Linked DNA regions of Homo sapiens. The protein of the gene in region 1 purifies or fractionates together with the protein of each later gene. This does not show direct contact. Each region holds a gene or a part of one and is shown in the gene's direction. Other genes may lie near its edges. The genes, in order: IL1F10, N4BP1 and KLHL18.

Evidence for each region.
Region 2: the proteins of IL1F10 (region 1) and N4BP1 purify together in Homo sapiens (affinity purification with mass spectrometry; one large-scale study listed by BioGRID and IntAct). This does not show direct contact.
Region 3: the proteins of IL1F10 (region 1) and KLHL18 purify together in Homo sapiens (affinity purification with mass spectrometry; one large-scale study listed by BioGRID and IntAct). This does not show direct contact.

The regions. Positions count from the first base shown.
Region 1 is NC_000002.12:113,070,881-113,073,723, forward strand, and holds part of IL1F10 (interleukin-1 family member 10), read left to right. Parts: intron 1-1,437; exon of another isoform or gene 1,438-1,830; 5' UTR 1,831-1,858; coding exon 1,859-1,890; intron 1,891-2,843. UniProt on the Homo sapiens protein: Cytokine with immunomodulatory activity. Alone, does not induce cytokine production, but reduces IL22 and IL17A production by T-cells in response to heat-killed Candida albicans. Reduces IL36G-induced production of IL8 by peripheral blood mononuclear cells.
Region 2 is NC_000016.10:48,554,573-48,558,228, reverse strand, and holds part of N4BP1 (NEDD4-binding protein 1), read left to right. Parts: intron 1-3,656. UniProt on the Homo sapiens protein: Potent suppressor of cytokine production that acts as a regulator of innate immune signaling and inflammation.
Region 3 is NC_000003.12:47,289,426-47,293,081, forward strand, and holds part of KLHL18 (kelch-like protein 18), read left to right. Parts: intron 1-3,656. UniProt on the Homo sapiens protein: Substrate-specific adapter of a BCR (BTB-CUL3-RBX1) E3 ubiquitin-protein ligase complex required for mitotic progression and cytokinesis.

The DNA.
Region 1 (2,843 bases):
TTGCTGGAATCACTCCAAGTCCTACTGAATTAGAACCTTCGGCCCAGGAAATAGTAATTATACAGAGTCCCCCAGGTGATGCAGATGGGCAGGCACATTTAGGAGCCAATGACTTTAACTGAACACTTCATTTAAAAAATGTTGAAACTTACTTGATACTACAAAGGAAATTCATGTTCATTATAGGAAAATGTTGATATGTTTAAAAAATTACTCATAAAGCCATAGGTAAGTGGTGCAACAACACGAGTAACATTTCTATGTATGTGTCTCTATGTGTGGATTTAAATAGAATTACAGTGTACACTTGATTTATAATCTGCATTTTTCACCTAATATATTTTGAAAATTTTTATGTCCTAAAACAAGCTTCTATAATATCATCTTTAACAAACACATACATCCTTATTTATTGAATTTTGCTATAATTTCTTAGCCAATTACCTATTACTGAAAATTCAGATTTTTTTCAACTTCTTGCTATTGTAAAAAATTATGCAGTGAACATTTTTGTAAGTAAACATTTGGGCAATCCGTTATTTTTCCTAAGAGTAAGGGAAACACATGCAATCACAAAGTATACAGAATGCTTTAAGACTTTCATTCACAGCACCAACATCCCTCCAGAATTTGCACTTGTTAGTCCCTATTATCCTTCACTCTAAGTCTCAAAGTCATACCCCAAGGCCTGGGGACAGAAAATGACTTGTCCAAAGTGACAGTGACAGACCCAGTACTAAAAGCCACCTTGGCTACAGCCCTGTTTCTGGAACTTGAGAGCTGAGGTGGTTGGAAGCCGTATCCTCAGCACCCACCTGTTCCTTCTCACCTGCCTCCCCAGGGTCCCTCAGCATCTCTCTATTCCTCCCTGAGCCCTATTACTTTCTTCCACCTGCCTTCTTCCTTTCTCTTCTCTCATTTTCTGCTTTCTTATATTTTTTCTTCTCTATTCCCTTCTTATTTGGTGAGAATCAGATCTACTCGGTAAACCTCAGCCCTAGTCATACTTGCGTTACTTTCCTGAGCTAATTTCCAACTCCTGATTAGCTCTGGGTTTATTTCCATGCTAAATTCTGGACTGGCCTTTCCAATGGGTGTTCATTTTAGGGAAGAGCTCTAGGACAGGATAACCCATCGGGAAGGAGCAGAGTCATGTGAGGCTGTGTGGCCTGGCATTTATACAGGGCCACTATCTTCACTGTGCCATTTTCCATCTGGAACAGAATGGGGGAGTTTGGATGGGCTGTTTTCGGCAGTCTTGGCCAAGCACTTCTAGTCACTAGGAATGATGTTTTCCAACTCTCTGGGGAGACCCCACCAGCCTCACTGCTGCTGGAGACCCCTTCTAGTTGTGCTCTCTTCTTTCACTCTGGGCTCTAGTTATCTAACCCTTGGCTAGTTATGGGGGCGGGGGTGTGGTGCCCTGTTGGCCAACAGGGCAGTGGGACTGGGTTTGAGCTGGGCTTATCCTCCAACTGTGAGGGAGGCTACAGCACACTCCACCCCACTCTCAGGGCTGGGAATTGTTGTGGCTCAGCTATTTGGGGGAATCTGTTTTCCAGTTTCTCAGAACCAGCGCAAGCACACACATCCCAGGCTCACACCCCTGGTGGCTGGACTTGCTCCCGGATAGCCTCAGTCAGGGAGAGGCAGAGCTGCCTGGAGCCTGCTGGGCTGGTGGAAGCCTTGGTGGATTCTGGCAGGCCAATTATAGACGAATGGCCTGGGGAACCCGTGCAGCCCTTGGCTGAGTGGTTCTAAGCCCCAGCACGTCTGCCTCTGGCTTCACCCAGCCTCCTTTTCTAACTGCCCTTCTCTCCTCCCCATCAGTGAGGACCAGACACCACTGATTGCAGGAATGTGTTCCCTCCCCATGGCAAGATACTACATGTAAGTTGTCCTGGCATGTCCCTGCTTTCCAAGCCAGGGGGTCAGGGTGGGAAGAGGAAAGGAATGCTGAGTCAGAGGATGAGGCTCCTTCTCACCTTAGAAATTGCAAGTGCCCCATAATTAAGCTTCATCATCACCACAGTAGCAACAGCTCTTTCCTGAACGTCTGCAAGATGCCAGCCAATCTACTGCCTCATCTCTGTTCCAAAAAGTCTGTAAGTGGAGTGTTATTAAACCCATTTTACAGATCTGGAAGCTGAGGCTCAAAGAGGGTAAATAACTTCCCCCATGTCACACAGCTACCAAAAGGCAGAGCCAGGAATCAGACTTCATGTCCTCTGTGCTGCTCCATCCGCCTCTCTGAAATGTCAGAAAGTTTTGAATCTCAATGACAGCATCTTGATGGTGGTCCCTGTGGCCTTTACTCCCAGTGTGGGCTTCTAACACTTACTTACATTTCATCTCATTTGAGATTTGCATCCTTCCTTATCTTTTACTACTTTGTTGTCTGTGATTTTGTCATAAGCTCCTTTCAGGAAGGAGGTGAGGCATAAGAAAAATCAAAGAGGACTCTGGGATGCATTTCCTCTGCCCCTCCCATGGACCCTGTAATGTCCAGGGCTGTGTCCTGGACAAGGTGGGTGGGGAGCAGTCCTGGTCTCAAGGAGGTGACAGCCTGGCTGGGAAGCAAGACACATACATAGGAAGCACATAAATGACAAAGCAGATGTCAGCACTTCAGGGCATCTAATCTGGGTTCTGGTCTCCAAATAGAATGCTGCTGGCATGTGAGTTGTCACATCTGGGTTGTCAAGGTGGCAAGGGGAATGCCAGATAACACGCCCAGGATCTTTCCGGAAGTTTATTTTTATTGTACAAGTGAACCTGCTTTAAATATGTACAGTCATTAGCTAAGGGTATTATCGTTAGCTGTTATTGAGATAGAAAAATCC
Region 2 (3,656 bases), on another chromosome or scaffold:
CAATACTTTTACAAGAGAATGTGTTACTTTAAGAAGACAGACTTGTACTTAATTTGATGTAAATTGATCTGAAAATATCAGTAATTAAGATTTACCCATATTCTAGGAAGAAACTGCGTAATGGGTATAGAGTTTTATTTTGGAGTGACAAACATTTTGGAACTAGATGTAAGTGGTGGTTGCACGGCATTGCGAACGTAGTAAATGCCATTGAATTGATTATTTTAGTCGTGTGAATTTTACCTCAATTTTTTTTGGAAGTTGGAAAAAAATCAGCCCTTATTTTAAATCAGTTGCTTCAATGTTAAGTGTGAATAAACTTTGACTAGATTCCATGAAGAAACTGATTTGTGTTTCTTCTGTTCAGTGAACTACCTCTAATACCCATAGTCCCTGACACATAGTAGGAGCTCAGTAAAAACTTGTTGATGAATTAAAGGCAAATTAGAATTTTTCTTTTTTTAAGAGGTAAAGTCTCACTATTTTGCCCAGGCTGGACTCAAACTTTTGGGCTCAGGCAATCTTTCCTAGTAGCTGAGGCTATAGGCATGCCTTACCATGCCCAGTTTAGGATTTTTTTAGTGGCTTTTTACTACCTATTTGTAACTTCATGGTTACTATTCCAGTGGCCAGTTTAGATTTTTAACTGAGGCCATATATTTAATGCAACAAATATTTGAGATTTTAAAGCCGAATCACCCATTATTATGTGTCAGGCACTGTATTTTTAAAAATGCAACCTTCACACCAATTGTGAGTCAAAAGTTATAATTTATACAACATGAAGTGGCTTAAAAATGTTTTCCAGGGTTACATGGATAGAGATTTGGGCCCATAATGTCTTTCCCCAGAGCTGCTGTATACCCTCTCTCCTCCAGCAGAAGTTAAGGTTGGAATTTTCAGGCCAACGCATCATTGGATACTTAAGTCTTGGGTTGCATAGCACTGCTGACTAAAGCTCACTGATTTGACCCAAGTAGTTGGGGAAGTACTTATTTGGTCCTTAAGCAATAGGATCTGTTGGTGTGAGCCCCACCCTAAAGCAGCCTAGGCCCACCCTTCGATGTATTTTTGTAAAGCCTTTGTTCATTTGCCTATCCAGAATGAGGTCTGCAGCCCATACCACCATGAAAACCTCCACAGTACCCTGTTTAATGCTGCCAATTTTGTATACCTTGTTCTTGCCCCCTTGTCACCATGAATGAGTCAAATGATGAGTAAGTGGAAATTGTTTGTGGTGTATGGCTAGACAGCACAGTAGTGGCCAAGAAACATTTGGGCTCTGTCAGCCTGAAACTTCAGCATGAGAGCCCCTGACATATGGGGTGATAGTTTTCCATGTAGATGGGGTTTGCCCCTTCCCTTGCCAGAATTAAGTATTTTAGCCATTTTTTTTTCCATACTAGTCTTTTCCATATTAGGGTTCCATAAAAAGAAATCGCTTTTTCCTGGGTAACTCAGAAAGGACTTTCCATTGTCCCCACACTGCCCTGTCTGGTGCTATGGCTGCCATGAGTTTTTATCAGCTGTGTGTCACCCATCTCTCCTCCACTTTGGACACTTTCTTTTAGTTGCCAGCATTCTATAATATGGCAAACAACCAGATGATATAACCTTTAACCAATTATATGGAAGCAGGCATTTAAATGTCTTGAGGGCCTGGACACCTGGCCTCCCAGACTTGATAACTGTTCATTCTGCATTTGGAACTGGGAGCCCCAGAGCTTTGGCCTTCCCATAAGTAGCAAGGTGTTATTATATATATACTTTGGGTCGAAATAGACCTTTGGTCTGGGTTTACCTGTCAACATGCTACTCTGGTTTGATTGCAGAGAGGCTAGGAGACAGTGATGAGTAAGCACATGTCTGCCTGCTCAGGGTATAGGACTTGAAGTAGGAAGAAGGGTCCTTAATCGACCCTCTGTATTATTTTGAGGACAATAATTTGGCTTCACTTAATTTTTTGTCATTGTAGTTTTATTTTTTGGGTAAATTTGTATGTTCTCCACCAGAATTTTGAACCTCTATTTTAATTCCATTCCTGAGATTTTTTTAGAGTATCAAAAGTGATATGATCTTATTACTGAGAATAACACTTTGGAATTTAGTTGAGAGCTGATGTTTCTAGAACCTCCATCTGTTCCCCCTCTAGACTTGTAAGGAGTCCAGGGCAGCAGAATTCATCGGTCTGCATTTCCTTCCTTGTTACATAGTGACCCAGTGGAATTGAACTGGGTACTCCTCCTCTATCCAGTTCCTCCTCTTGCCATCACTAGAAGCTTTAAGGAAAAGAGGGAGAGTAGGTAGCACACATTTGTATCTGTCAAAGTAATCAGGGAGCCACCTTAAAAACCTTTTCAGTGCAGTTATCTCAAGGGTTATCCTTTTGAGGACTAAATATACATATTTCTTGGTTTTTCTAAGAACCAGCAGGTTGTTCTGTTGTGGATTTTCAAATTAGGGCTGTGGTTGATGTTAACTCTGGGCATGTCCCTGCTGTTAAGCAATTAGAGTGATGGATGATTTATTGTTTTTGGAAGATTAAAAGAGGCCCCCTTTAAAGAACCACCCCCAGTCTTTTTTCTAGTTAAAAATGTCACTTTGTTACCTTCTTGCCATATTTGAATGCCTTTAGATAAACAAAGCACTCCTGAATTATCAAGATTGCGTGTGTTTATTTACATATATTTTCTGGGGTAAGAGCCTCTGAAATATCTTATTTATGGTTCACTGAAAAAGAAATAGCCTTTAAAAAGAGGAGTCTGTGCGTAGCTCTTGTGAATCTCACAGAGCATTAGATGTTCGTGAAGTGTCCAGCCTCTTCCTGCTCTCAAGGAACGCACATGCAGGTGGGGTGACAGTCCCACTGTGGGGTCGTGGAAAGGGCAGGCGTGAGGAAGCCGGAGTATGATCCAGCTCATCCCCCTGGCTCTGCAACCCAGGCAGGCTGCTCTTTCCCTAGTGACTCCTTTTTCTAACAGGCATAATGCCATTCTATCTCTGTGATTCTCGTGCACCATACAGGATTGGAACTCAGAAGAGGAAGGAGGCTGAGAGAGGCCCTGTGTCTAGAAATAACTTCATAGAAGAAGACGGGCCAGAATTCAGCCCATTCAGTCCTGAGGGCATTTGAAGAAGGAGCAAGGAAAGGTGCAAGAGCATCACACATATAGAAAGCAACATAAGGAAAGGCTCAGAGACCGGGAGGGGTGAGATAGCAAGACCTGGCCAAAACCAAGAGGGTTGTCTCATGGTAGTGGGAGGGTCACTTGGCCAGATCCTTTCTGACGAGTCAGACGAGGAGGGGTCCTGGAAGCCAGGCAGGATTAGTGTAGGACAGTGCCTTTGAAGGCCCTGAGCAGAATCAAAGGCCTTGGGCTGCATTTAAAAGTTAGTTTCACTGGAATTTGCAGGGTAGGTTGGAATTAGGAGAGCCTGGGTTTAACTCGGGACACATATGCCCATCATGGCAGGACTTTCAAGTGAAGTATTTCTACAGAGCAGTTTTGGCATGCAGCATTAGACATGGAGAGAAGATAGGACTGAAGATGCAGGGAGTATTGTCGCTGGAATCTAAGTGACCATTGAAGCAGTGAACATAGATTATGCTAATCTCATAAACTACAGCATCACAGTTTGAGATTTTAGTCTTTTTT
Region 3 (3,656 bases), on another chromosome or scaffold:
AAATTGGCTTCAAGAGCTACACATTTGAATCTGGAATCTTGCCTAATTTGTTGTCACCACTGGCTTTGTGATGAAAGAGTAGGTGGAGAAGGATATGAGGAAATGAAGTAAGGGCTTGTTGATGCATACCATTTTTATGTTGTGTATATAGTACAGTGAGTTACACAGGGTTAATTATAGAGCTAGAATAATCATATTAAAAGGAGCTGTAGGCTGGGTACGGTGGCTCACATCTGTAATCTCAGCACTTTGGGAAGTGAGGTGGGAGGATTGCTTGAGCCCAGGAGGTCAAGGCTGCAGTGTGAGCCATAGTTGAACGACTGCACTGCAGCCTGGCAATAGCGTGACTCTGTCTCAAAAAAAGAAAAAAGAGAATTGTAGAGGTTCCCTATCAAAGCTATCATTTTACATGTGAATGCATGGACATAGAGTGTGGAATGAATGGAGACTGGAGTGGGATGAGGGATGAGAAATTACTGGGTACAATGTACATTATTTGGATGATGGTTACACTAAAAGCCCAGACTTCACCACTATGCAATATATCCATGTATCAAAACTGCCCTTGTACCCCTAAATTTATACAAATAAAAACATTTTTAAGCCATCATTTTACAGATGTAAAAAACCCTGAGGCTTAGAGCTATTAAGGGATTTGCCCATGGCACAAAGCTGTATCAGCTGAGATCTAACACAGCTGTTTATTGGTGGAAGCCATGCTTTTACATCCTGTCAGATTATTCACCTGCCCTGCTGATGGTATGAAGCATAGTAGGGAACAAAGCATCCTTAGTGTCATTCTTGAGCACAGAGGGCAAAGATGTGAATGTCCAGATGCCACACCAACATTTTATTTCAGGAGAGAAGATGCAGGCTTTTTCTACTAGTCTTTTAGACATATGAATTCTTGACTCTGATTTTGAAATGACATTGTATTGGAAAACTTGTGCTTCTGAATATTGCTCATTCCCAGGGTTTTCTACTGACATTTTTCATGTAGTTAGGTTTATCTCTCTCTGTGTAGTTAGCTTTGTCTCCCTCTTTTTTTTTTTCCTTGAGACAGGGTCTCATCTCTTGCCCAGGCTGGAGTACAGTGGTGGATCACAGCCCACTGCAGCGTCGAAATCCCTGGCTCAAGCCATCCTCCCACCTCAGCCTCCCAAGTAGCTGGGACCACAGGTGTATGCCACCACGCCTGGCTAATTTTGTTTATTTTTTGAGAGATGGGGCCTCACCTTGTGGTCTAGGCTGGTCTCAAACTCCTGGGCTCAAGCGATCCTCCTGCTTCCACCTCCCCAAGTGCTGGGATTACAGGCATGAACCACCACACCTGGCCCAGCCTTGTCTCTTTCTAATGAGCAATAAGAACTGAGAGGAAGAACATGCTCCTTGAGGGGCACAGCACTTGTTATACAAATTTCCTATCAAAAATTCAGTTTTAATCTCCTTGTTCAAGTTATGTTGTGAATAATGCTGTTAAATTTGGACACCAATTAGGTGAATTAGAGAGCTTGATGCTGCCTGACATGTGGGTGGGGAAAGAGAGTTGGAGGTACAGCCTGGACTATCCGTTACCAGTCAAGCAACATTCATCATGTTCACCCTAAGGCTTCTGGAGCTTGCTGGCTGGCTGACTGGCTCGCCAGGTACATTTAAGAAGCCTGTGCTTGGGGATGTTTCTTAACTGCAGACGGTTCCTTTATTATTCTGTACATGAGACTCCATTGTTTGCCCCTTAGCCCCACTTGGTTTAGCTTGTAGGCTAGTTGATGGAAGATGAGACCACATTGTTTTTCTAAATGTGTGTTCCTAGCCCTTCCCAAATTACAAGCATGGCAGCTACCTTTCTACTTTCGAACTTGTTGAGTATTGGCACTGTCATTGCCTCTTTGGCATGGAACCAGCCAGCTGGCCTGTGGTTAGCTTAGGAAGACCTTAGGAAGAACATCCAAGCAGCTGATTACATCACCACTTTTTTCCAATTGGGGACAAAAGTGGGTGAACCAAGGTGCGTGAACTAAGAGTTAACAAGCATTTTCTGTAAAGGGCCAGATAGTAAATACTTAAGGATTCGTGGGTAATATAGTTTCAGTTGCAGCTACTTAACTCTGATGCTATAGTGCAAAAGCAGCTATACACAATGTATAAATGAATGGGTGTGGCTGTGTTCCAGTGAAACTTTACAAAAGAAGCATGAGCTGAATCCGTTGCCTATAGTTTACTGACCTGTTATATACTGATAGGGCCTCTAAGGCTTTTGAAGTAGGTTTTATTTTTATTATTTATTGCTCTAGCATATACTTCTGTAGTTTCAACACAGTATTTAGGAATTGAAGCATTTCTTGTTAAAGAATACAAATGAACCGGAAGTGAAAAAAATTTTCCCAGCTTACTACAGGTGATCATGGGACTATACTGATTAGTAAGTGAGTAAGTAACATAGAAGTTACTGTTAAATTTAGCATCTCATTTGTAAAGCCTTCACGCTCTGCTGGAACTTGAAGCAGAATGTTTCCAAAGTCTTAACTAAAGACACCATGCTCCCATTCTGTCTCAGTTGAAGCTGAGGATGCTTAGCTGCTGGCAGAATGGCAGGCCAGAGACCCTGATGGCTCTTACGTTCCAGTGAAACAGACAGTCTGTGTTCAGGGCCTTGAAGGTAAAGGTCAGAGCTTGGGCTTTTGGCAGGCAAAATAGGTGAACTGTAGTTCAAATATGACCCAATATAATGGTATATGTGGGCAGAGTGTTCTGAATAGCTGATCAGAACACAAAAATGCTTTTCACGCCTGTAATCCCAGCACTTTGGGAGGCCAGGGTGGGTGGATCACCTGAGGTCAGGAGTTCGAGACCAGCCTGACCAACATGGTGAAACCCCATCTCTACTAAAAATATAAAATTAGCCAGGCGTGGTGTCGCATGCCTGTAGTCCCAGCTACTCGGGAGGCTGAGGCGGGAGAATTGCTTGAACCCAGGAGGCAGAGGTTGCAGTGAGCCGAGATCGTGCCATTGCACTCCAGCCTAGGCAACAAAAGTGAAACTCCATCTCAAAAAAAAAAAAGCTTTCAAAAAATAAGCTCAAGAACAGATAGATACTTGTACACCAATGTTCACAGCAGCATTATTCACAATAGCCAAAAGGTGGAAGCAACCCAAGGGTCTACCACTGGGTGAATGGATAAACAAAATATGGTATATGGCTGGACACAGTGGCTGATGCCTATAATCCCAGCACTTTGGGAGGCCAAGGCAGGCAGATGGCATGAACCCAGGAGTTTGAGACCAGCCTGGGCCACATGTCAAAACCTTGTCTTTACAAAAAATACAAAAATTAGCCAGGCGTGGTGGTATGCACTTGTAGTTCCAGCTACTTGGGAGGCTGAGGTGCGAGAATCACCTGAGCCCCGGGAGGTCAAGGCTGCAGTGAGCCATGATTATACCACTGCACTTCAGCCTGGGCAACAGCGAGACCCTGTCTCAAAAAAAAAAAAAAAAAAAGTATATACATACAGTGAAATATTACTCAGCCTTTAAAAAGAAGAAAATTCTGCTGCAACATGGGTGAACCTTGAAGACATTACACTAAGTGAAATAAGCCAGTTACAAAAGGACAAATGTTGTGTGATTCCACTTATATGAACTACCTAGAATAGTCA